7 linked regions of the Homo sapiens genome follow. The protein of the gene in region 5 purifies or fractionates together with the protein of the main gene of each other region. This does not show direct contact. Each region holds a gene or a part of one and is shown on either strand. Other genes may lie near its edges. The genes, in order: NSUN2, KIF5B, ROCK1, COPB1, DIAPH1, MYO1E and PLXNB1.

The links.
Region 1: the proteins of DIAPH1 (region 5) and NSUN2 fractionate together in Homo sapiens (co-fractionation; one large-scale study listed by BioGRID). This does not show direct contact.
Region 2: the proteins of DIAPH1 (region 5) and KIF5B fractionate together in Homo sapiens (co-fractionation; one large-scale study listed by BioGRID). This does not show direct contact.
Region 3: the proteins of DIAPH1 (region 5) and ROCK1 fractionate together in Homo sapiens (co-fractionation; one large-scale study listed by BioGRID). This does not show direct contact.
Region 4: the proteins of DIAPH1 (region 5) and COPB1 fractionate together in Homo sapiens (co-fractionation; one large-scale study listed by BioGRID). This does not show direct contact.
Region 6: the proteins of DIAPH1 (region 5) and MYO1E fractionate together in Homo sapiens (co-fractionation; one large-scale study listed by BioGRID). This does not show direct contact.
Region 7: the proteins of DIAPH1 (region 5) and PLXNB1 purify together in Homo sapiens (affinity purification with mass spectrometry; one large-scale study listed by BioGRID and IntAct). This does not show direct contact.

The regions. Positions count from the first base shown.
Region 1 is NC_000005.10:6,623,045-6,626,544, reverse strand, and holds part of NSUN2 (RNA cytosine C(5)-methyltransferase NSUN2), read left to right. Parts: intron 1-875; coding exon 876-981; intron 982-3,259; coding exon 3,260-3,331; intron 3,332-3,500. UniProt on the Homo sapiens protein: RNA cytosine C(5)-methyltransferase that methylates cytosine to 5-methylcytosine (m5C) in various RNAs, such as tRNAs, mRNAs and some long non-coding RNAs (lncRNAs).
Region 2 is NC_000010.11:32,035,926-32,039,425, forward strand, and holds part of KIF5B (kinesin-1 heavy chain), read right to left. Parts: coding exon 3,402-3,500; intron 2,902-3,401; coding exon 2,853-2,901; intron 2,294-2,852; coding exon 2,238-2,293; intron 1,683-2,237; coding exon 1,595-1,682; intron 1,454-1,594; coding exon 1,329-1,453; intron 70-1,328; coding exon 1-69. UniProt on the Homo sapiens protein: Microtubule-dependent motor required for normal distribution of mitochondria and lysosomes. Can induce formation of neurite-like membrane protrusions in non-neuronal cells in a ZFYVE27-dependent manner.
Region 3 is NC_000018.10:21,105,314-21,108,813, forward strand, and holds part of ROCK1 (rho-associated protein kinase 1), read right to left. Parts: intron 1-3,500. UniProt on the Homo sapiens protein: Protein kinase which is a key regulator of the actin cytoskeleton and cell polarity.
Region 4 is NC_000011.10:14,468,812-14,472,311, reverse strand, and holds part of COPB1 (coatomer subunit beta), read left to right. Parts: intron 1-2,748; coding exon 2,749-2,976; intron 2,977-3,451; coding exon 3,452-3,500. UniProt on the Homo sapiens protein: The coatomer is a cytosolic protein complex that binds to dilysine motifs and reversibly associates with Golgi non-clathrin-coated vesicles, which further mediate biosynthetic protein transport from the ER, via the Golgi up to the trans Golgi network.
Region 5 is NC_000005.10:141,525,001-141,528,500, forward strand, and holds part of DIAPH1 (protein diaphanous homolog 1), read right to left. Parts: coding exon 3,453-3,500; intron 2,698-3,452; coding exon 2,573-2,697; intron 1,462-2,572; coding exon 1,297-1,461; intron 1,174-1,296; coding exon 1,038-1,173; intron 1-1,037. UniProt on the Homo sapiens protein: Actin nucleation and elongation factor required for the assembly of F-actin structures, such as actin cables and stress fibers. Binds to the barbed end of the actin filament and slows down actin polymerization and depolymerization.
Region 6 is NC_000015.10:59,201,872-59,205,371, reverse strand, and holds part of MYO1E (unconventional myosin-Ie), read left to right. Parts: intron 1-2,964; coding exon 2,965-3,046; intron 3,047-3,500. UniProt on the Homo sapiens protein: Actin-based motor molecule with ATPase activity. Unconventional myosins serve in intracellular movements. Their highly divergent tails bind to membranous compartments, which are then moved relative to actin filaments.
Region 7 is NC_000003.12:48,420,087-48,423,586, reverse strand, and holds part of PLXNB1 (plexin-B1 precursor), read left to right. Parts: coding exon 1-82; intron 83-639; coding exon 640-822; intron 823-1,127; coding exon 1,128-1,256; intron 1,257-1,381; coding exon 1,382-1,482; intron 1,483-1,780; coding exon 1,781-1,913; intron 1,914-2,202; coding exon 2,203-2,359; intron 2,360-2,630; coding exon 2,631-2,739; intron 2,740-2,813; coding exon 2,814-2,922; intron 2,923-3,329; coding exon 3,330-3,500. UniProt on the Homo sapiens protein: Receptor for SEMA4D. Plays a role in GABAergic synapse development. Mediates SEMA4A- and SEMA4D-dependent inhibitory synapse development. Plays a role in RHOA activation and subsequent changes of the actin cytoskeleton.

The sequences.
Region 1 (3,500 bases), about 130 Mb from region 5:
AAACCACATCTCTACTGAAAATACACGTCTGTAATCCCAGCTACTCAGGTGGCTGACTGAGGCATGAGAATTACTTGAATCCAGGAGGCAGAAGTCACAGTGAGCTGAGATTACACCACTACACTCCAGCCTAGGTGACAGTGAGACTGTCTCAAAAAAAAAAAGGCAGTGTTTTTAGTATCCCCCATTTCTCCCCTAATTAAAAAAAATAAAAAAAATAAAAATAACATTGATGTCATCATTTATAGAAAGTTCAAATATATTCACAGATATGATGGCAGGAAATGCTTTATTCTTAGTTATATATAGGTAACAGCCTAGGAGCTCAAGTTAATGCATTAGTGGTTTCCAAGGTAGGATTTTTTTGGTATGTAAAATATTTTAGTGCATTATTGAACTGGTGTTAGAAATAATGAAAAATATATTTTTTAAAAAACTAATCAGGTATTTGTGGGACACTCTGACACTGCATTATTTTGATTCTGTGTGATCTGCACATTAAGTAAGTCATCTTGTATCTTTTTTTTCTGATGACCTTACCATTGTTACCTTATAATGGTGAAGAGCAGAGGAGTGTCCGCTTTTTCATCTGATCTCGAGCGTTTCATCATTATAATTTTACAGTAATATGCATAATCTTGTAACCCCCATGGCTCTCCTGTTTCTGATTGGGCCACGGTGTAGCTAGAGCCATGTTCCTTAAGCCTACAGCGACATCTCTGAGTGTTGCTGACTGTCCGTAGAGGATTGTGAATAGGAGCAGGGAGAACAACATTCGAAGTCTCATTTGGCATGCGACTGATAGAAGCACAAAGTTGTCAACAGACGACTTTAGTATTTATAATCCATAAATGTTTTGCTTTCTTTTTGGTCAGGTATCCTGAAGAACTTGCCTGGCACACAAATTTAAGTCGAAAAATCTTGAGAAAATCGCCACACTTGGAAAAGTTTCATCAGTTTCTAGTTAGTGAAACAGAATCTGTAAGTTGATTTCTTTAGACTTGCTAGTTTCCTTAAAGCTGTAAATGCATAGATGTAGTGTAGTTCTGTTTTTAGGTTCTTGTCACTAGAAGCAGTAGGTGGACATCACACACAGTAAAGACAACTGCAGTGTGTGCACCACCTGTGATTTCTGATTATTTGTATATCCGTTGCCTTGTTTGGTTTATCTAGTCATGAAATTTAGTAAGGATATCGATGCCAGCTAGTTAATTTCTTGTTTCCTCTTGCTTGTGTATTTGGATGGCTATAGGGTTGGGGTGAGCACTGCACTCTCATTTCCTTCTTAGGTACACATTTCAGATGCCTGTTGTACATAAAAAGTAGTATGTTTTTAAGGCCATCTTGGTAGGGAATAGGTTTTTGGTTCTGTTTTTTAAAATTGATTTATTTTACTAAAAATGAAGCTTTTGATTTTACTTTTTACTGTGTTTTTTTTTTTTCTTACCACACATTGCTCTTGGTAACCACAAAACACCTAAGCACCACAAAACCCCTAAGCACAGCTTTGGTCCTCACAGGACGGCATCTGTCTTCACATTCTCCGTAGCCACCCACATTCCTTGAGTGCAGTTAAGGTGCTGAGCTTTTTACCTTTAGCATCAGAGCATCCCCAGCAAAACAGCTATTTGCTTATGTACTAAATAATTCAATGAATGCCCATAAAGTTTGGGTATTTTTTTTGGAATTCTTAGTCTCACATTTAAAATCAGAGGTTTCGTCCTTCCTATTTTCTAAACTACTACCTTCTAGTAAATCTGTGTGTCACCAGATTATGGTTCTTTTTCACTTTGGCCTTCTGTCATCTAAGTAACCGACTAAACTGGGCTTGTGTCTGCCTGGCTTTTCCTTCCTGAATAGTAACAAGAACCAGGAACTAAGTGCTGCCACATAACCCCATTTCGTACTTGAGACCAGTGCACGAAAGGATTCTCTTGCTCAACTTTCAATCTAGATGGAAGGCCAAATAGAGATCAGTAAGCTGCTAGAGAACAGCTCAGGTTTGCACTTGGAAGAGAGCGTGGGGTTTGTGGGGTGTGATACACATGGATAGGTTGGAAGAGCCAGGTTTTGGCATGTTTGGAAGATGGAGGAGATGGGAGTTTAGGGTGGGTAGCAAATGTTGTAGGGAACTAGTATAGGTTTTTGATTAGGAGTCAGCGTGATGAGAGCTCTTGAGATGAATGGCAATAACCTCTGGGTTATGGAAAGCTGGCCACAAAACATCTACACAGGGTGGTCATGAATCTGGTTACTGTCTGCCGGGATGTCCCCATCTTACTTAATGCTTTAATCAAAACCTTGGATGGATACAGAAGGCAGGCATATCAGGATCACACGTATAACTCAAAAGCTTGGAATCAGTGTGCCTAGTGAGTGAATCACCACAGACTCATGCTGGCCAGAAACCCATGAGGTGAAAATTAGCAGCCATCAGTGTAAAAGCCTGTATTTAAGGCTCTTGACAGTCACATGCCTGAGTTTAAGGTGAGTGATGGATGCCTGGGTGGCTGTTCATTTCCAGAAGTCCCAGCTTTTGTAGGGTTGTGTTGGAGCAGAAGCCTCAGCTTCAAGGCGATTAAAGTAGAGGTGTGGTTGAGGCTAGTGCTGGGCAGGGCAGGAGGATTTTGTCTGCACCTGAATAGTTCTGCCTTGTAACAGATGTCCTGGCCGACTAGAGAAGACAGAGGGCAGGGAGTGTGGTGAGGAATTTTAGATATTGAAGGTCTAAAGATGGAAAGATGGAAGCAGTGGTTGATGTCTTCATCTCTTTGAAAGGTAGTTATGAGAAATAGAAAGTGGGCATGGGCTATGTCTGAAAATAGTGGAGGACTAAGAAATAGAATTTTAGGCAAGAAGGAAAAACCATTTGACAGTCACTTTCTGTCCTAAGTTGATGCTGTCTGTTGAAGGTATTTGTTTAAATATTTAATAGCATTTCTGTCTTTGAGAGCTGCCCCTCTAGCTTCTGTGCTCTACTGCTATGGGGAGTTGGGGCTCTGTAAGCTTCAAGTCCCTTTTCTTTCATGGAAGTTGGTATTATACCTGAATTTCTAATATTTGAATGGTATAGCAACCATTTGTCCGCTAGTGTACAGATCCATCTCATTTAGTGTTCTGTGTGATAGTATGAGTTCTCTCATTCTGTATAAGATTATGTGCTGTTTTCCTGTTGCCTTTGAAACAATGCCAAAGATTGAAATTGTCTGCGGTTTTTTTTTTTTTCCTAATTGTTGCTGATTTTTTTTTTTTCCTCAAGGGAAATATTAGTCGTCAAGAAGCTGTTAGCATGATCCCACCACTGCTCCTCAACGTGCGGCCTCATCATAAGGTAGCATATAGCAACTAGAAACGTGGGGGCGGGCAGCTTGTTACCAGTGTCATGCCTGTTTGTTTTGATGAAACCATTTTTTCTTAATATAATTAGTCCTTTTTTTCTTCTTTTCACTTTGGATAGAGAGTGATATGTACGTATCTTAGTTTCTTTTTTTTTTTTTTTT
Region 2 (3,500 bases), on a different chromosome or scaffold from region 5:
AGCAGAAAGTGACTTGTTGATGTTTTTAGCTTCATCCAGCACAGCACCTTCAGCTCCAGTTTTACTAACCTATACATAAGATTTCAAAAGAATGAAACAAAATTACAAGTTTATAATTTTCTTTACATTTTCTAAAATGTTCATATGTCATCAATAACCAGTAAAAAAGAAAAAAGAACATGAAAAGCTTCATGATCTTATTTGCCAAGCATACCACCATTTCTTGAGTACTACTCTTAAGAGTTTGATTAGAGAGACATCAAATTTTATCTGTAGTTTGTAGGTACTCTTGAAAATAACCAATTTAAATGTAAATTTGTAGTTCATTAATCTGTTAGTCCCCTTTGCTACATTAGAAAACAGGAACCTTCTAAAATTGGCTAATGCATAATGTTGATGTTGTAACTGTTAGAAAACAGAGACTGAGTTTTAAACACATTATATAAGCAAATCTGCTTCTTTTAAAAATATATAAAATATCTAAATATCTATGTTGTGGTGTTTTTTTTTTGGAGACTGAGTCTCACTCTGTCACCCAGGCTGGAGTGCAGTGGCTTGATCCCAGCTCACTGCAACCTCCGCTTCCCGGGTTCAACCAATTCTCCTGCCTCAGCCTCCCCAGTAGCTGGTATTACGGGCATGTGCCACCATGCCCAGCTAGTATCTATGTTAAAGATAGGTCAGAACAATAAATTAGCAATGTTGGCTGAAGAAATAGCTTAGGAGATTTCTCAGATTAGATAATCTTTGAAAGATGTGTGTAAGACTTCAGAGTAGAACGGAATAGATATATCATTCTAAGCAGAAGAAACAAAATTAGCACAACAGCAAAAATGGTCAGAGGTCCCTATTATAACATTCAAACTTAATTTGATATAGACTAGAATCAGACTGTATAGAATTGTAATAATGAAACAATAATCCAAAGGAAAGAAATAAGTCCAACCAAACCAGAAAAGACTAATCGAGAGTTACCAGTTTTAATAGGGACCCCACTGCCAATATGGATAAAATACGTATCAAAAATTAGAAAAGGGATATCTAATAAAGTTTATAACAACATATGCTGAACCAGTTCTCACTATGAACATATCTTAAGTCATAGAAACCACTTATGGGTTGAACTAGAGTATGGTCAAACAACAGTAACTTGGAACTGATTATTCAGCTGATATCATCATAAGGCACTGGCATCAGCGGTTACAAATCTCAGGTTACCAAATCCAGTTTGGTAAGTAAGATGCAACAATGAACCCTGCGTAACTCCCAACTCAAACTAAAGTTTACAAAGATGCTTAAATATTTGTCAAAATACATGAAGACTTTACCTTTTCACTACCAGCTAAATCAACCAGATAAAGTTTTCCACTCAGCTTTTGTTCCGTTTGTGTGTTCTCTTGTTTGACATTAATAAGAAATATACTGTGACTCCTAGAGCTATGTTCATTCATATCTGCAAGGAAATTACACAAACAAATATAAACAAACATGATTTCCCCTTAACAATTTCCCTGAAGCAATCTTATAATTAATCACCTGGATAAGGATATTTTAAGCTGGTTTTAAATCCTAACCAGTGTTATTTTCTACTTACTTGTAACTGCTACATGTCTGTTGGATTTTCCTTCATCTATGGTATCCATAACTTCATCTGGACTACATACAAAACGCTCTGTGCACCCCTGTGAAATAATTTTTAAAAATATGTTAATGTCTGGCCAACATGATGAAACCCTTTCTCTAATAAAAACACAAAAATTAGCCGGGCGCGGTGGCGGGTGCCTGTAATCCTAGCTACTTGGGAGGCTGAGGCAGGAGAATCGCTTGAGCCTGGGAGGCAAAGGTTGCAGTGAGCCGAGACCATGCCATGCACTCCAGCCTGAGCAACAGAGCGAGCCTCCATATATTAAATGAATTGGCTCACGCCTGTAATCCCAGCACTTTGGGAGGCAGAGGCGGGCGGATCACGAGGTCAGGAGTTCAAGACCAGCCTGGCCAACATGGTGAAACTTCGTCTCTACTAAAAATACAAAAATTAGCTGGGCGTGGTGGCGCATGCCTGTAATCCCAGCTACTCAAGAGGCTGAGGCAGGAGAACTGCTTGAACCCTGGAGGCAGAGGTTGCAGTGAGCCGAGATTGCACCACTGCACTCCAGCCTGGGCGACAGAGTGAGACTCTGTCTTAAAAAAAAAAAAAAAGTATTACAGGGTTTTCTAGACAACTGTACTATAAATACCTTTACATAGGGAACTCGGTTTTTGTCTTCATGAACTGAAAGGTTGGTCTTTGAAACTGAGAAAGAAAAACAAATGTTAGCAACATTCTCCTAAAACTCTTAACACTGGATATGAAATAACTGATAGGCTTTCCTGAGCAGCCTAACAGCAATAGTTGAACTCTAAAAACATATTAAAACATTGCTCTAAAGCAGACCTTACAGACACAGCAGGAGATGTAAATAGAAACCAATGCAACAATATAGAATTTTAGGACCACTCCAACCTACCACCCACATTTTATAAACAAGAACATTAACCCTGAATGGTTCAATGATTTGCCTAAGGACAATGTATCTAATTGACAGTTGACAGAAGACTAGAACTCAGGGCTCAGATTATGTAACTCCCAGTCCAATGCTCTAATTACTACTAAGAAGTACCCATAAACATCGCTTTAAACTAGTTATTCTATTTAAAGGTATTCAACTAAAACTTTAGAAGAAAAAAAATTTTGTCTATTTCCAATAACTTAAGACAATTTCATATAGGTTACAAAGAAATAGTCTCACATCTATTATTAAAAAGGAATTAACAGATGTTATTTAAAACTGATTAGCAAGAATTTAACTTACCATCTAACAGGTCCCTTATCTTATCCAAATATATTTCAAAATATGAAACCTAAAGGGCAAATTTAAAAAAACACCGATCAACTAAAGTTATATAACTTATTCGCATATTGAGGTCTGAGTGCTAGGCATTGTTTAGACTAGAGAGACAGTTATCAACATACCAGCCATAGCTCACATTCTAATGGGAAGACATAAATTAGCCAAATTAGCTTAGTTATTTAAGCAGTCTTCCCATTGGACATAAATTACATTATCTTCATCTAAAATGAATTAGAATAGTTTTATGTAGTAGAAACCTTCAAGTTCTGCAGTAAAGCAACCTCCTTTATTTTTTGAAGGAGGCTAAAGACTTAATCATTTACGTTAGTTAACATTCCTGTTCATCTAATGGCAGATGAACAAAAATCCAAGTTTACTAACCTGAATGATCTTTCAACTGTACCTTTCCAGAAAAACAATTTTTAAAATTAAAGAAACCAGCATTTACTATTTTTTTAGAACATTATTCTTGCTGTAAAATAAAATATAATCTTTCCTCAAGGAATTTACCTTAATATGAAATTCCAAATTTTCATCCATGGAGTAAATATAATTAAAAATATCTTGCACTATTCTTGGAATAATTCCCATGCCTTCTGGATCATGAAG
Region 3 (3,500 bases), on a different chromosome or scaffold from region 5:
GTTTTTTTAAAAGAAGTTCCTGCAACATACTAACATCCAAAAAAGTCTGGTCCAAACTAACCAGATATGCAATTGATACTAATAACACCTATTAACTCACAAACTAGGAACACTGGCAGAGATACAACTTTAAGGCTCAAAGATTTAATGACCTCAGGTCTTTTCATTCCAAGAGTAATATACCCCCAAAACAGATCAATTCAACTGGCAAGGCATACAGGGGATTAGACAGCAATAATCCAGATTCGAAAATGCTACCCAAAATCTGCTGTAATAACCCAATGTGTGGACTAACACTGTCAAAAAAGTTCACAACAAAAATTTCAGTTTAGCGACAGGGACAATAGTGGAATTAATGACAAAACAGATAAGTTTATGGGAGGAAGCTTGTTTTGGAATATGAGGGATTTGAGACTAACATGACATCCAAGTAGAAATGCTTACAAGGCAGTCAGATATTTAAGGTTTGAAACAAAAGACTAAAAATAAAGATTTGGGTATCATGTACATAGAGATAATAATAATTGAAGCTGTAAGAATGGATGAATTCTTCAAGAGAGTGAAGACAAAGATAAGTATGATAGGCCAAAGATTGAGGAAAAGAAAAAAAGAAGAATGAAAAGATGGGAAAGCACTAGGTCAAGAGAGCCCAGGAAGATAATTTAAAGGAAGAAAAACTCAAAGACTAACACCAGAAATTTCATTTACATTTATCTTCCACATTCTGAAAAACTCCCTAATAAGAAATAGTAGTGACAAACAGCACAGTGTTAGAACTCAACAGGCACTATTTGACTAATACTGGTTCCCTTCTGTCTCCTCCGCTCACCCGTTGCTACACCTCCACCAGCCAGAAGAGAAGTGGAAAGGTCATGTTCTTAACAGGCATCATGAAGCGATGTGCCAATAAATATGCTACAAGCAAGATATTTTCATGAAAAGTATGTCAAACTTCAAAACAAATGTATCTATAACCCTCCCAACCATTTTTGTTTTTCCTTTTTTTTGAGACAAGTTCTCACTGTGTCGTCCAGGCTGGAGTGCAGTGGCACAATCTCGGCTCACTGCAACCTCCCCGTCCTAGGCTCAAGCAATTCTCTGGCCTCAGCCCTCCAGGAGCGAGCCACTGCACCCGGCCTTGTTTTTCCTATTTAATTTACAAATCATAAGCATTTTTTCCTCTGCAAAGATTAAATAGACTTAACTAAACTCCATCCCTTATTCTGTTTTCAAAGGTACTCAAAATCACTGAGAAATTATTACAGGCCCTAGACAAAATAATTAGAAGATAAGGAAGTCCGGAAAAGAGAAATAGCTCCCGATAATCCTTATAAACTGTAACATGGACAGTAAGAAAGACAACCATTAGGACACTGGAAAGAATCTGACCTACAGAAAACCAAAGTTGACTAATTTGAATGCTCTAGGAAACAAGTGAATGGTTATCATAATGTATCTTAGTATTTGCAGACTATTTTAGCATTTATACATGATATGAAGATTGAACTTACTTAGTTCTTGAAAAAAATTACAGGTGTTCGAGAAAAGATTGGATAGCCACTTATCAGAGTTCTTCCAGCTACATTATTCTAAACTACTGCAGGTTGAGTATCCCTTGTTTAAAATGCTTGGAACTAGAAGTGTTTCAGACTGCAGACTTTTTCAGATTTTAAAATATTTGCATATACATAAGATACCCTGGGGATGGGGACCAAGTCTAAATAAGAAATTCATTTACGTCTCATACATACCTTATACACAACAACCTGAAGGTTATTTTTTGCAATATTTTAATAATTTTGTGCATGAAACAAAGTTCTGACTGCATTTTGACTGCAACCCATCTCACAAGGTCAGGTGGATTTTCCACTTATGGCGTCATGTCAGCACTCAAAAAGTTTCAGATTTTGAGCACTTCAAATTTCAGATTACGGATGCTATTCATCATTAGTGTCTCAACAAAAAAGCTGTTTAGTAGGTAAGGTAGTTTAAAAGGACATACACCAGCAAATTTCTGAAACCAAAAGATTTGGAAGTTTCCATTTCTAAGCATGAATCTAGTAAAGGAGGTAGAGAAGAAACAATTTGAAAACCTTATTTTTGGGATTACAAAAACAACTCTAGAACTAAAGGACTGCACGTGGCACATAATACACACTAATAAGTAAGTATCAGTTACACAAATCAACAAAAGTCAAAATAACAGAAAAAGGCAACCAATGTAAAAGGAGTTTTGTTCCTATAATACATGAGAGGTCCAAAGTCCAGATAGGGAAGAACAAGAACAGACTCACTGAAAAAGCTGAAGTCACCTGATAGGTCACCCTGAATGACACAATGAATGAATGAACGAACGAATGCTCAATGTTAAACATAAAACATCATGCGAAGAAAATTCATGCTAGATACTACAAACCCAGAAAAAGGATTTTTTGTCTCTAAAGGAAATTCAGTCTTGGGCCAGGCACGGTGGCTCACGCCTGTAATCCCAGTACTTCGGGAGGCCAAGGCAGGCGGATTCCTTGGGGTAAGGAGTACAAGACCAGCCTGGCCAACATGGTGAAACCCCATCTCTACTAAAACTACAAAAATTAGCCAGGCGTGGTAGTGCACGCGTGTAATCCCAACTACTCGTGGGGGCTGAGGCAGGAGAATCACTCGAACCCAGGAGTCGGAGGTTGCAGTGAGCCAAGATCGCGCCACTGCACTCCAGCCTGGGCAACAGAGTGAGATTCCATCTCAGAAAAAAAAAAAGGAAAATTCAGTCTTTACCAAGTTCAGATTGACGGGGTAATAAAATTTCAGTAACAGCTATCAATAAACAGCTGTGGAACTAAACAGAAAAAGAGGACAAGATTATAAGATTTGAAGGGGAAAAAACAACCAAATCTGTCTGTTGACTATTCTCTTTAACAAAATGTTGTTTTAGAAGTGTTGGGCTCCATGATACCTGGCTGTCCTAACTCTGGAGGCCTTGATGGCTTACCTCCTCCACTCTTCCTCTTTGTTCAACCTTCATCTTTCACCCTCATTTTTCCCTCCATTGTTTCTCCCTTTACCATTATATCAACTTGCACCTTTGTGCAAATGACTTCTAAATCATTATCTGTAATTATGAGCTCAGTTCTGTATCTCCAACAGTCTACAGGTCATTTTCTCATGATTGCTCCACTATCCCCTCAAACACAACGAATCTAAAATTGAATTTATCTGTAGGCCTATTCTTCACAAGCAATTTCCAAACCTGACTTTGCTATTTTTACCATTCTCCCTATAATCCAGGCTCAACCTCTTTAGAGTCATCTGACTATTGCCTCTCTCTTTGGTTCCCCATCTTTTCCCTGCCAATAAAGTTCCATTAATTCTTCTTTTCTCATTCTCATGCCCCAATTTTGGGCTTCAATCATTTCTGGACTATTACAATAATAACAATTTTAAAAAACTGTCCAATCTCACTGTCTCTCCAATCTTTTCCCATGCTAACCCATCTTCCACACACC
Region 4 (3,500 bases), on a different chromosome or scaffold from region 5:
CTTTTAAAATATTACTGTTCATTGACAATTTAGCTGGTCACCCAAGAGCTCTGATGGAGATGTAGAAAGAAATGAATGTTTTCATGCCTGCTAAGACAACATCCATTATGCTGCCACTGATCAAGTAGTTTCAACTCTTATTATTTAAGAAACAGAATCCATAGAACATTTGTGGTAGTAGCGCAGAGTTGGTTACAATGTCCTACCACAGCAATTTCTGACATTCAAATTGGGCCTGTAGCAATGGGACTCCTTTTGATTCCTTCAGCTTTCGTATTATGTTGGTTATCTATACAGCAGGTTTCTAAATTGAAACACTTTCACTCACATCACTCATATTTCCTTCGTTTTTGGAGACTAACAGCTTGATCTAAAAAAAAATTTTTTTTTAGACGGAGTCTCACTCTTCTTGCCCAGGCCGGAGTGCCATGGCATGATCTCAGCTCACTGCAACCTCCGCCTCCTGGGTTTAAGCAATTCTCCTGGCTCAGCCTCCCGAGTAGCTGGGGCTACAGGCGCCTGCCACCACGCCTGTCTAATTTTTTTTGTATTTTTAGTAGAGACTGGGGTTTCACCATGTTGACCAGGCTGGTCTCGAACTGCTGACCTCAGGTGATCCGCCCACCTCGGCCTCCCAAAGTGCTGGGATTACAGGCATGAGCCACCGTGCCTGGCCAGGTTCTTTTTGTTTTTGTTTTAATTCCATTATAAGAAAAGCCATAAATGAGAGCCAGATAATTTACAAGGTATATTATCCCTTAATTGATTTGATTTTTGAGCAATAATTTATTTTGTAACTCTTTTGTGGGCATTTATTTATTCAGGTCTGGTCACAGTATAATCTTTAAAGTATGTTTTTTAAAAGTCTCCAACATTTTTTTATCTCAGAGTTGAATTTGCTTTCCTCTCCTGGTTGCATCACTTCTGGAAGTTGGGAGTGTTTACTGATACCTGCTTAAAAGAGCCAGTTTCTTGTAACATACCGAGTTAATAATGTTTGCACTGTTTGGTACAAGAAGGAAGTTTGGTTGCTTATAATCTCACTGGCACTCCTTCATTTATGCCATTTCCAACACTCTTCATTTCTTTGTGTAGGACTAAGTTTCTGGTATCATACATCTTTTGCCTAAAGAATTTGCTTTAACTTTTCTTATAGTGCAGATTTGTTGGCAACAGATTGTTCCAGTTTTTGTCTGGAAAAAGCCTATTTTTTTGTACACTTTAGAAAGTTACCTTTGTGGGTATAGGATTCTAAGTCTTCTGTTTTTTTTTCCCAGTAGTGTAAAAGTAAAGCTCCATTGTCTTCTGGCTTTTTGGTGAGAAGTCTACTGTCATTCTTATCTCCCTGGGTGTAGAGAGAGAGAGAGTGTGTGTGTGTGTGTGTGTGTGTGTGTGTGTGTGTGTGTGTGTGTATTTCTTCCACTGGTTTTAGATTTTCTCCTTTTCACTTGGTTTCAGTAATTTGATTAGGATATGCCTTAGTGTGGTTTTCTTCATGTTTGCTGTACTTGTGGTTCATTGAGCTTGTTGGGTTTGCAGGTTTATATCTCCATCAGTTTGGGAAATTTTCAGTCATTTCCTCGGATTTTTTTTTCTGTCCCCTCCTCTCTTTCCTCTCCTTTTGGAGACAGTATCCAAACTTGGGGGACATATACTTACTCTTCTGCTGGTTTTTCCCAGGCCTCCAGTAGTTTTTCATGCATGTGTGCAGATCAGTACTCAGCCAAAGGCAATTTGGCAAGGGCTTAGAGCATATGTGTCAGGATAATGCTACATGAGACTAAAAAAGTAAGTTGCAATCACTTGTGGAAGACTTTGAATAGCGAGCTAAGTAATACGGACTTCAGTATGAAGGCTGACATTCATTAAAGGTATTTACATAGGGAATGAAATGATTGGTGCAGTATAAAGATTAAGATAGCAGCATCAGGTGATCACGCTTAGCAGCACAATAATTGGACAGCCTAACTTTAGGTACCTTGTGATGCAGTACAGGGTGAAATACAAAACATCACCTATCTGGTATTCTAATCAAAAGTGTGGGATATTCTATAAAACAACTGGCCTCAGTTCTTTAAAAAAGTTAGTGCGATTAAAAACAAAACGGCAGAGAACTGGTCTAGATTAAGAGGGATAAAATGCATGAAGCTGATCCTGGATTTAAAAAATAAAACAAAAACATTTTAAGACAATTTAGGGAGATTTATTTGAATTCAGAGTATAGAAGCTGTATTTTGGAATTGTTGAATTTTTCAGATGAGAAAATGAAATTGTGGTTTGTAGGAAACTGTTCTGACTCTTAGGAGATGAATGCTGAAGCATTTATGAGGTGAAGACTTTTTCACATGTCAGCCAAAAAAAATAAGTGTACATATACAGAATAGGTAAGCAAATGTGGCAAAATGTTAACAATTGGTAAAGTATATCATTCTTTTAACTTTTCTGTAGTTGGGATTAAAAAGGACAGCATCAGCATATGAAGTGGTTACAGAGAAGGACTGGAGCAAGGGAAAACAGTTAAAAAGCCTCTGCTGTCTCTAATTGAGGATTAATGCAGGTCTTAGAGAGTGGCAGTTAAGAGTAGAAAGGAAGGAGAAGAATGCAAAAACAGATATGGACATAAAATCCAAAGAATTTGAAATCTTATTCAGGTGAAGTGAAAATTTAGATTGTGAGTTATAATGAAGTGACATGATTGCAATCTGAGAATCAAGACAATATCAGTAACCGATTTCTTTACTTTCTTAGTCTTTTGTTGCTGAGGCTATGTTGCTCATGGCTACTATCCTGCATTTGGGAAAATCCTCTCTTCCTAAGAAGCCAATTACTGATGATGATGTGGATCGAATTTCCCTGTGCCTCAAGGTCTTGTCTGAATGTTCACCTTTAATGAATGACATTTTCAATAAGGAATGCAGACAGTCCCTTTCTCACATGTTATCTGCTAAACTAGAAGAAGAGAAATTATCCCAAAAGGTAAGGTATATATGATGAGGCAACAAAAGTGTTTTGTGTCTCTTCGTGCAGTGGCTCACGCCTGTAATCCCAGCACTTTGGGAGGCTGAGGCAGGAGGACTCCTTGGGGCCAGGTGTTTGAGACCAGTGTGGGCTACATAGCAAGCCCCTGTCTCAACAAAAAAAATGAGAAAATTAGCCAGGCATGGTGGTATGTGCCTGTCATTCCAGCTACTTGGAAGGCTGAGGATGAAGGATCGTTTGAATCTAAGAGTTCGAGGCTGCAGTGAGCTGTGATCATACCACTGCACTCCGCCTGGGCAACAGAGTAACAGCCTGTCTCAGGAAGAAAAAAAAGAAAAGAAAAGTGCTTTGTGGGTTTTCTTGTTGTTTTGTTGATTTTTCAGTTTTCATATGTGAGGGCTGTCTCTGTCAAAAGCCTCTAAAAAACTATCTTTTCATATTAAAGAGAGACTTTGTTATATTCTCAACACAGAAAGAATCTGAAAAGAGGAATGTGACAGTACAGCCTGATGACCCCATTT
Region 5 (3,500 bases):
CGTGTGCAGCCCTCATCCCACATGTCAGCGGGACTCCACCTTCCCCCACTGCATCCTAGCCAGTACCTGGGGACAAACCCTGGAGTCCCAGGGGAAGGTGAAGGATACTTGGTGTGGGCTTTAATAGCATTACGAAGTTGTGGCTTACAACTAAGGGCAAGGAAATTGCTTTACAGAAAAGTATAAAAAGTCCCTGGTAGCAAGAGGTATCAGAGCAGCCCTTGTGCCTGTGCTCTGTAAAATACTGATTCCTAACAAACTCAGCAGCTCTGTGAACACCTCTTCATTTGCAGAAGGTTTGTGGCCCCTCAGGTTTAGAGGAGGGTGGCATGGGCTCAGTGCTGTGTGAGCAGTGTATGCTGTATTTCCGCTGCCCACAGAGAGAGCAGTGGGGGCGAAGGGGTAGGGAATCTGCAGCAAGAAAGAAGCAGAGACAGGAAACAGAGGGCCAGTAATTGAAACCATATGTTTCAACAAAGACATGCTTCTGGTAGTGAAACAGAGATTCTGCTGAAGAAAGAAGAGGGTGACCGGCTCCCCACCCGCTCCAAAAGTTCAATCCATTTAAAATCTAATTGTGCATACAACTGTGCTAAGGTACTAGGGACATAGTACTTTGTGAAATAAGCAGAAAGGGAAGACACGCCACAATTAAAAGATGGGAGGAGCGTCAGGAAAATATTTTACAGAAAAAAACCCGAAAGATTTAGTGGAGGGAATGAGAACAGGCCAGAGGAACCTTTGGATGGACAGAAGGAAAACAGTATATATCACAGCAATACCACAATCACAGGGGAATGAGAGAGAATGCAAGAGCGAGCAAAGGAGAGAAAAGGTAATAGTTTAACCAGGGCAAGTTGGAATGCGCATGTATCAGAATTGGGGTTAAAGTCCGGCATCAGGATCTCGGAGTGAAGACTGCCAAAAATCATTTGCCAGGAGGTGAGCTCAGACATGAGACTCTGCCTCTAGACTCTAGGCAGAGAAGTCTTCCCAACATTCCTATCTCAGCCCATCAACCCGTCTTCACTCCTCACCTGCATTCATGTCTATGAGTTGCTCTCTCTTCTGCTGCTTCTCTAGCCGCTCCTTCTCTGCCTTCTCCTTGGCTAGTTTTGCTCGCCTCATCTTTTCTTCTGTCTCCCGCCGCTTCTGGTTCTCCTTGACTGCTTGCTGGGGCAGGGAAGAGGAGGAAGGAACACATGGGCATTGTATACCTACTACCAGCCAACAGGAACCCAGGGGAAAGTGAGAAATGCCCACAAAAGATTCAGTCAGCAAGTATCCCTTGCTCACCAAAAACATATTCCGAAAATTGTGAAGATCCATGAAAAATTCTTCAACAGACAACTTCTTGGGGTCAAAGAGGAAGTACTCGCCCAGCTCCTTATAGAGGGTCTCCATGTTAGAATGCATCATCCGCAGCTTGTTATACTGTTCCTGTGCATCCTTCACAAAGCTGTGCAGCCAAGGAGTAAAGGACCAAGACCAAGACCAAGAAGCAGACCCACTTCTCTAGCCCAAGGAATTACTCAAAGATGAGTACTGGCATGCAAAGGGATGTTCAATACAGCACTGTTTATAACAGCAAAAACCAAAGCCATGTAGGTACCCCTAAATAGGGGAATAGTAAACCATGAACTATGGTACACCTATAAAAAAAGAAGGTGGCAGTTTAAACTGTTGTTTGTTTGTTTGTTTGTGTTTGTTTGTTTGAGACAGGGTTTTGTTCTATCGCCGGGCAGGAGTGCAGTGGCGCGATCTTGGCTCATTGCAACCTCCACCTCCTGGGTTCAAGCAATTCTCCTGCCTCAGCCTCCCAAGTAGCTGGAACTACAGGCGCGCACCATCACGCCCAGCTGATTTTTTTGTATTTTTAGTAGAGATGGGGTTTCACCATGCTGACCAGGATGGTCTCCATCTCTTGACCTAAAAGGAGGTTTTCTATAAATACTATTATGGAAACATGGCCAAGACATATGTGCAAAACACAATACAATGCAGTTTTTGTTTAAAATAAATGTATGAGGTGCAAATCAGAATAAAGTCCAGTGGCAGTGGTTACCTCTGGGGAGGGGAAAGAGAGGGAAGCATGTGTGAGCGTGTGTAGTGGAGACGGGGTACAGGCAGGGGAGTTGGTGGGACTTTTATGGTTGATCTGCATGGTGTGCTTCTACTCCACAACAATGGAATGCTCTCAGGAACTATGCAGCCTGGGCAACAAAGTGAGACCCCATCTCTAAAGAAAAAAAGGTTACAAAAAGTTTAGCAGGGCCTGGTGGCACATGCCTGTAGTCCCAGCTACCAAGGAGGCTGAGGGGGTAAGGATCGTTTGAGTCCAAGAGGTCAAGGCTGCAGTGAGGCGTGATGGCACCACTGCACTCCAGCCTGGGTGACACAGAGAGAGCCTGTCTCAAAATACTAACAAACCCAAAAAACTATGTATTTAAAGAAAAAGAGTTTTTTAAGAGAAAAAAATTGCATACTGCCCTATCTATCCTGTTTTTCCCCCACTACAGGAAGTTTTCTTTCCCTTCCTAGGGAACAACTCCCTCCTTTCAAGAGAGGATATGGTCATTTTTTCAACAAACTTGTCTTTTTCATCTGTGGCAGCTGGGAAATTCTGAACATCACGTTCCACATCAGAAATTTGTTTCTTCATCTGATCTAGGTTCTTTTGCAAGTTTTCAGCAGAAACTAAAAAAAAAAAAAAAAAAAAAAACCATAAAAACAGACAGCAAGAGCTTACTAATAATCCCAGCCTCAACACCCCTTAGTTTCACCTTTCAGAGCATAGCTTCAGTCTATACACACATTCTGGTACTTAATAATTTTAGTTCCTTATGTACTTTAGTTGTGTCACATACTTAAGTTTTCATCTTTCCAGTGAAACTATAAATTATTTGATCATTGAACCTCCAGCCTTCACAAGGTATGCAGTACTAGGAACAGAAGAGAGACTTCATTTAATTTAACATGAATCTATGAAATCCCCTGAGATCTTGGTCTCATTTATTTTAGAGAACAGGGTTTGGGAGGAAGGAGATATACATAGAAATATAGAGGCGGGGGCAGAAATCTGTTCCAATTTCCAGTGAATGCTGCTTTTTCTTTGTCTAGTTCCAGGACAGTGAGGCCTAATTTTTGTTAATGTAGTCTATGTTTTCTTAATGAAAAGAACTATTAACCTAGACTAAAAACACCTGCCTTTCTAGCTGTTTTTTGGTGTTTGGTGTTTCCTTAGGAAGAGAAAGAGTGCTTCCTATTTCTACACATAAAGATCTCTCCTCAGCCATACGCTCTGCCCTTGTGACTTAGGCACCATGCCTAAATCCTATCTCATTTCCACTTGAAATAGTCTGAACTGAAAATGCTCTCACATCTAGACTGTGTCTTATTTCCCTCCCCATGCAGAGACTTTTGGGCTCTAGCTTCATTCCAAACTGCCCCACCTCGGCTGGCTTTCTCCACATGGGCAAGCTCGTCTGGAAACTTGAGGA
Region 6 (3,500 bases), on a different chromosome or scaffold from region 5:
GGATATAGGTTTGATGAAATTTTCAATATGAAAACAAACTTATGAGCTGGGTGTGGTGGTGTGTTCCTATAGTCCCAGCTACTCAGGAGGCTAAGGCAGGAGGATCACTTGATCCTAGGAGTTTGAGGCTGCACTGAGCTGTGATCACTCCTGTCAATAGCCACTGCCCTCCAGCCAGGCAACATAGGAACACTGTGTCTCTAATAAAGAAAAAAACAAAAACAAAACAAAACACCTGTGATGTTTAGTGGTTAGCATTTTGTTCCTTCATGCTATTGGGTCTGGATTATCATTTAATCTATTTGGTTTCTCAAAATAGCTTTCTTTTCTCTATATCAGTCTCTCCCTTTTATGTCCCTAACACTTCATGCCCCCAAATTCCAAGTGCCATCTACAGGTCCTTCAGGGCCTCAGGCTTTCTACCTTTCAATACTATTATCAGGGAGAAATAAGCCCACTGGCTTTGGATTGGGATGGCCATTTCTGACTATTTAAGAGTGGAACAGTCTGGTTCTATGATACTTTGCCCCTGAGCTCTTCTTCATGGTCGTTGAATTTTTAAAGATGGTTAATGGCTTAGCAAGACCCACATTAACCAGAGTCCCTGAAGTACTGAAGAAATGGCTTGAGAACTCTGGGAGGGACAACTAAAGAAGGAGTGACTAAGAGATCCATTTTAACTCCCAAGACCCTGTTTCAGCTGTAGGGGTAGAAGAGGGAGGGTATCCCCCTTGCACGCTGCTAGAACTCTCAAGACCACCTCTGCCTTCCTCCCCTTTTCCCTGAAAAGGTTCTCAAGATCCTGGATAACACATAAGATGTAATTTACATGAGCAAGTCCATCATGCTTGCGAGGCAAGGCCCATGCATGCCAGATCTTACAATTTCTAGAGCTTCTTTCAAGTAAGAGCTGCCCTTTTGCTCTCTATTAGTTAAGCTGTCACAATAGCAAGGCCAGCTTCTCTGATCAACAGCAGCGAGCCTGATAATTTCCTATTAAAGGGCTGACTGCAATGAAAGCAAAGCAAGAGTTTCCTTTTCAGGCCCTGGTCAGCTGTTCTGCTCCGTTTACTTCTCTCCCTGTAGCTCCCTACCCCTCCTCACCCTCTGCTCTCCATCCCTGCGCTTCCTTGCAGCCACACCACCATTTCTGAGATTTTGCATTTCTTTTTATTCAAAACATACATAATCAATTTGTTCTTCTCTGAGATGTTTAGGTAAGCCACAAGTCCTGGCTTGTGGGTTTTATGGCAGTCAGGTGCAGACTTGCTTCCAGAGATTGTTTTTAAAAAATTATTAAAATTCCTGCCAAGTTTAAGAGCTATTATTGCTTCCACATAAACTGCTGTCATACGGACATGGCCTATTATTTTGTAAACACACTTGATGTCAAAATCTGTAGTTGTATCTGGTCAAGTTAAAAGTAGACTGCTGGGGAGACTTCCTGGAAAATTCAAGATGCCCAAAAAGTCATTGAGGAGGAAGTGAGTTTGAGTTTGAATGTCAGATTGCTAATTTACATGGATCCCGTCATTCACCCAGTCAGCAAATACATATTATGGACCAACTGTGCACCATGCTATGCTTCAGACACCAGGGACACTAAGATGAGTAAGGCATTGTCCCTGCCCTGTTGCTAGTGAGGCAGACGTATAAACACATGCAGCTCAAATAGCACCACTAATGAAAGTATCTTCAGGCTGGGTGCAGTGGCTCATGCCTGTAATCACAGCACTTTGGGAGGCCAAGGTGGGTGGATCACGAGGTCAAGAGATCGAGACCACTGTGGCCAACATGTTGAAACCCCGTCTCTACTAACGATACAAAAATTAGCTGTGGTGGCACGCACTTGTAGTCCCAGCTACTCAGGAGGCTGAGGCAGGAGAATCACTTGAACCTGGGAGGCAGAGGTTGCAGCGAGCCAAGATCGCGCCACTGCACTCCAGCCTGGTGACAGAGCGAGACTCCATCTCAAAAAAAAAAAAAAGAAAGTATATTCAGCCGGCAGAGCCTGGTGATTTGTTACTGCTCCGCTTAAAATTGCTCATACTCAAAAGCAGTTTGTCAGGGTTTTCTGTGTAGAGCTGGGAACAGTGTGCTACTGGCATCTGGTGAGCAGAGACCATGGATGCTGCTAAATATCCCACAATATGTAGAAGAGGCGCCCTCCTCGGCCCCCAACAAAGAATTATTCAGCCGCAGATACCAATGGTGCCCAGACTCAGAAACTCTGCTCTAGAGCAAAGCAGCATCTGCACTGAATCCAGACATTTCATATAATTCCCTGAGCTCTGGTCTATCTTGCTTGTCTTAACAAACACATGCTGGCCAGGCGCAGTGCCTCATGCCTGTAGTCCCAACACTTCAGGAGGCTGAGGCAGGAGCACCTCTTGAGTCCAGTTGTTTGAGACCAGCCTGGGAAACATGGCGAAACCCCATCTCTAAAGAAAATACAAGAATTAGCTGGACGTGGTGGCGTCTGCCTATATATAGTGCCAGCTACTCAGGAGGCGGAGGTGGGAAGATGGCTTGAGTCTGGGAGGTCGAGGCTGCAGTGAGCCATGATTGAACCCCTGCGCTCCAACCTGGGCAGTAGAGCGAGACCCTGTCTCAAAAACAAAACAAAAACCTAAAATCCCCTACTGACCTCCCTCTGTTATGTTCTGTCAAGATATACCTCAATTCCTGTGACTAGGGACGTTGGAAAGGCATTGTTTTAAAATTTATTTTGCAGTCTTTGATTCCAAATTGCTTATATCTTAGAATTCTTTCCCTTCATGACTTTTGTCCGTTGTTCATTTCCCCAAGTCACATCTTGATGGCCCGCGCTGTGAGTCAGATGGCTTTTCTGTAGCCAAGGTTATGTGCCTGGGGACGGCCCTTCACCCCATCCTCTAGAAAGGCAGGCTTTCAGCCCCAGAGGTACTTACAGATTGTTAATTCATTCTCTTTCTCCTTTTCCAGGCCTTTCATAAAGTCTTTATTTCCGGAAAATCTGCAGGCTGACAAGAAAGGGCGCCCAACTACTGCCGGAAGCAAAATAAAGGTTAGTTCTATTTTAGGAAGTTTATAGATTCTTATAAGGGCTAGCGCTTTCTAGGAGTAAGGAACTGCACCCCTGGGCCAGGATGAGGTCAGTGAGACGTGAGGAGGTGGTTACAGAAGATGCCCAGAAGTAACATCGCTGCTTGTTACAAGGTTCCAGGATGCAAGCTGAATTTGACTTGGCTGTACCGAAACCTTAAATGGATATTAAGTACCTCATAGCTTAATAGTCAGCAGATGATAATCAGCTACTTTCTAAGAGGAAATGGCTTTAAACAGAACCTGGAAGAATTTATGTTAAACTGTCAGAGAAATATGGTTCGGAGCCATGTTTTGGATACTGTTGACAGTTTACCAGGCCAGGCCCAAAAACCTGCCAGTTATGGAACGTTACTTGCCAGAAATTCTACTTGGTCTTTTAGGGGCAATTTATGCATCCCTCCTCACTGGGTCCT
Region 7 (3,500 bases), on a different chromosome or scaffold from region 5:
CCGGGAGGGTCGTGCTGAGGATGGGACCGAGGTGGCCTACATCGAGTATGATGTCAATTCTGACTGTGCACAGCTGCCAGTGGTGAGTTCCAGTATTGCCCCACTTTTCCGCCTCTCTGAGGCCACTGGCCAAGCATTTGCAGCCAAGGAGCTGCCCAGAGAGTCCGAGGGCAGCTGGTGGTAGCACGAGGATGATCAGATCAGCAAATATTAAGTGCTTCCTATGTTGCCTGGGCAGTGGAAGGGTACCTTACCACAAATCTGGCATGCGGGTGGCAGCAGTGTCTGGATGGGCTTGGACCAGGATGCTGGAGGGGTGGCACTTGTGTCGGTGGATTGGGAGGGTGTTTGGGGGTTCTTGGGTAGGGACAGGGACCTAGAATGGAATGAGACCTTTGGTTCTTGAGCAGGAGAGGAAGGTGAGGTCGGGATTGATGAGCTGTAGCCTCAGGATGGATAAAAAAGGGAAGAGAGACTGGGGGCGGGGATGAGATTGTCCCAGGAGGGCCAGCAGAGAAAACACAGTTGTACAGGGAGAGCTACCAGAGCGGCTGGGGGAGGGAATGAGGTTGTCCAGGGACGATGCGGCCGAGGAGGTTATCCAGGGAGGGCCTTCCTGATGCTTCTTGCTGCCTATAGGACACCCTGGATGCTTATCCCTGTGGCTCAGACCACACGCCCAGCCCCATGGCCAGCCGGGTCCCGCTGGAAGCCACACCAATTCTGGAGTGGCCAGGGATTCAGCTAACAGCTGTGGCAGTCACCATGGAAGATGGACACACCATCGCTTTCCTGGGTGATAGTCAAGGGCAGCTGCACAGGGTGAGCCCACAGGAAGTACTGGCCCCTGCCCCAGAGTCTGGAGGGAACAGATTGCTAGGGACCCAGCCTGGTTTAAGCTATCCCTGTGACCCCTGGGCCAGGAGAGATGACCTGAGCTCCTCTCCCCAGGACTGGGTGGTGTTTACCTGTGACTTTCCTCCATCCCCGCTAGGCCAGTTGGTATGACCTGTGACTGCCTAGGAGGAAATTCTATTTGTAAATTACTTCGATTGGGTGGAGGAGGGGAGGGCTTTGGGCCTCTGGCCATGGACTTGGGTCCCAGACCCTGTGGTCTCTGATCCCAGGTCTACTTGGGCCCAGGGAGCGATGGCCACCCATACTCCACACAGAGCATCCAGCAGGGGTCTGCAGTGAGCAGAGACCTCACCTTTGATGGGACCTTTGAGCACCTGTATGTCATGACCCAGAGCACAGTGAGTGCCAGGCACAAGCCAGGGCATGGCTGCTGGGAGGGGCCTCTGGGTGGGGCCAGGGACCCACTTGTGGGTGAGCCACTGGTGTTTGGATTGCTGGCCTCAGGTCCTCTTTGCTGTCTCAGCTTCTGAAGGTTCCTGTGGCTTCCTGTGCTCAGCACCTGGACTGTGCATCTTGCCTTGCTCACAGGGACCCATACTGTGGGTGGTGCGTGCTCCTTGGCAGGTCAGATTTCTGACCCCATCCCAGCCCCAGCCTCAAGCCCACAATGCTCCTGCATAATTGTCCTGTCCAGAATTCCTGACCCTTAGACCATGACTCTCAACCCCTGATCCCCAGACACCCCAATTCCTCACCCCCATCCTCTGCACTGGGCATCAGTGCCCTGCCAGGGCAGACACAGGAGCCTCTATCATGCCCACTCTAGGGCCCTGCCCAGGTCCTCCAGATTGTAGGAGTCCCTACCCTATGAACTCCCAGTGGCCCATGAGGGTCACAGATAGACACTGGTCATCTCGCCCAGGTGCAGTCGCCGTTCTGAGTGCTCGAGGGGCCAGGGCCCAGAGCAGTGGCTATGGAGCTTCCAGCCTGAGCTGGGCTGTCTGCAAGTGGCAGCCATGAGTCCTGCCAACATCAGCCGAGAGGAGACGAGGGAGGTGAATGATCAGATAGGCAGGGCCCTGGTGGGGAGGGCTCTGGGCATCAAGGTCTGGGTAGAGATCTTGGATCCTGATGTCGGACATGCCAGATACCACATGGCCTCACACAAGTCACTTCTTTTAGGAGCTCAGTTTCCCCATCTATTTCTAACTCAGGCCAGAGGGTGTTTGGGGAGGCCTGAGGGCTGTTGATTGCTGGTGCCTGCCCACATTGGGTGTCCCATAAATGTGAGCCCTGGTCTGCTGCCCACTAGCCCCAACAGTGTGTCCCTGGCTCTCTTGGCAGGTTTTCCTATCAGTGCCAGACCTGCCACCCCTGTGGCCAGGGGAGTCATATTCCTGCCACTTTGGGGAACATCAGAGTCCTGCCCTGCTGACTGGTTCTGGTGTGATGTGCCCCTCCCCAGACCCTAGTGAGGCCCCAGTGCTGCCGAGAGGAGCCGGTGGGTGAGAGAATGGGCCAGCCTGGTGGGGGCCAGCCCCTGCTTCAGGGGATGCGGTGGGGTTAAAGTGTGAATCCAGGCAAAGAGCCATGAATGGATGCCTTTCTCTGGGTCCTCCCACTCCCCAACCACCTGAAGCCTCCATTCTGTGCCCTTGGACTGTATTCCCTCATCCCGGGTCCTCTTCCCCATTCAAGGGCTCAGGATATCGGCTCTGGGTCTGAGTGCACCTCCTTGCTGCTTAACCCTGGCCCTCTCTCCCCCTCTGCAGACTACGTATCCGTGAGCGTGGAGCTCAGATTTGGCGCTGTTGTGATCGCCAAAACTTCCCTCTCTTTCTATGACTGTGTGGCGGTCACTGAACTCCGCCCATCTGCGCAGTGAGTTCCTCGCCCTGTCCCCAGGCCTGGGCTTCCCTGTGGCGACCCTTGCCCCATGGCTGTGCTCTGTGCAGGTGCCAGGCCTGTGTGAGCAGCCGCTGGGGGTGTAACTGGTGTGTCTGGCAGCACCTGTGCACCCACAAGGCCTCGTGTGATGCTGGGCCCATGGTTGCAAGCCATCAGGTGAGTGTGACTTTGGGCTGGGCCATACCGGGGGGGTTGGGGGTCCCAGTGTGAGAGTTTTTCTCATGGCCCGGGGTCTGTCTGCCTATGTGAGGCTCTGTCCTGAGCACCAGAGCCGCTGTATGTGACGGACTCCCTGGAGAACAGCCGCCGATACATCCCGCCTGTTTTGGGAGAGGGCATTTGTAGCTGAGAGGCAGGGGATGTCTGGCCTTCATGCCCCACCTCGGCACAGACACCCCTGGAGCCTTCCCCCGCAGTTTTCTCCAGTGGAGAATTAATGGGCTGTTTTTATTTCTCTTTTCCTTGGTCTCCTTTCCTCTTAACATACACTGTGCCTGCCTGCCTCCTGTCCCGCGCCTGCCTGCTGAGTGGCCCTTCCTGTCTTCCTCTGCCTCCCCCTTCAGAGCCCGCTTGTCTCCCCAGACCCTCCTGCAAGAGGTGGACCCAGCCCCTCCCCACCCACAGCCCCCAAAGCCCTGGCCACCCCTGCTCCTGACACCCTTCCCGTGGAGCCTGGGGCTCCCTCCACAGCCACAGCTTCGGACATCTCACCTGGGGCTAGTCCTTCCCTGCTC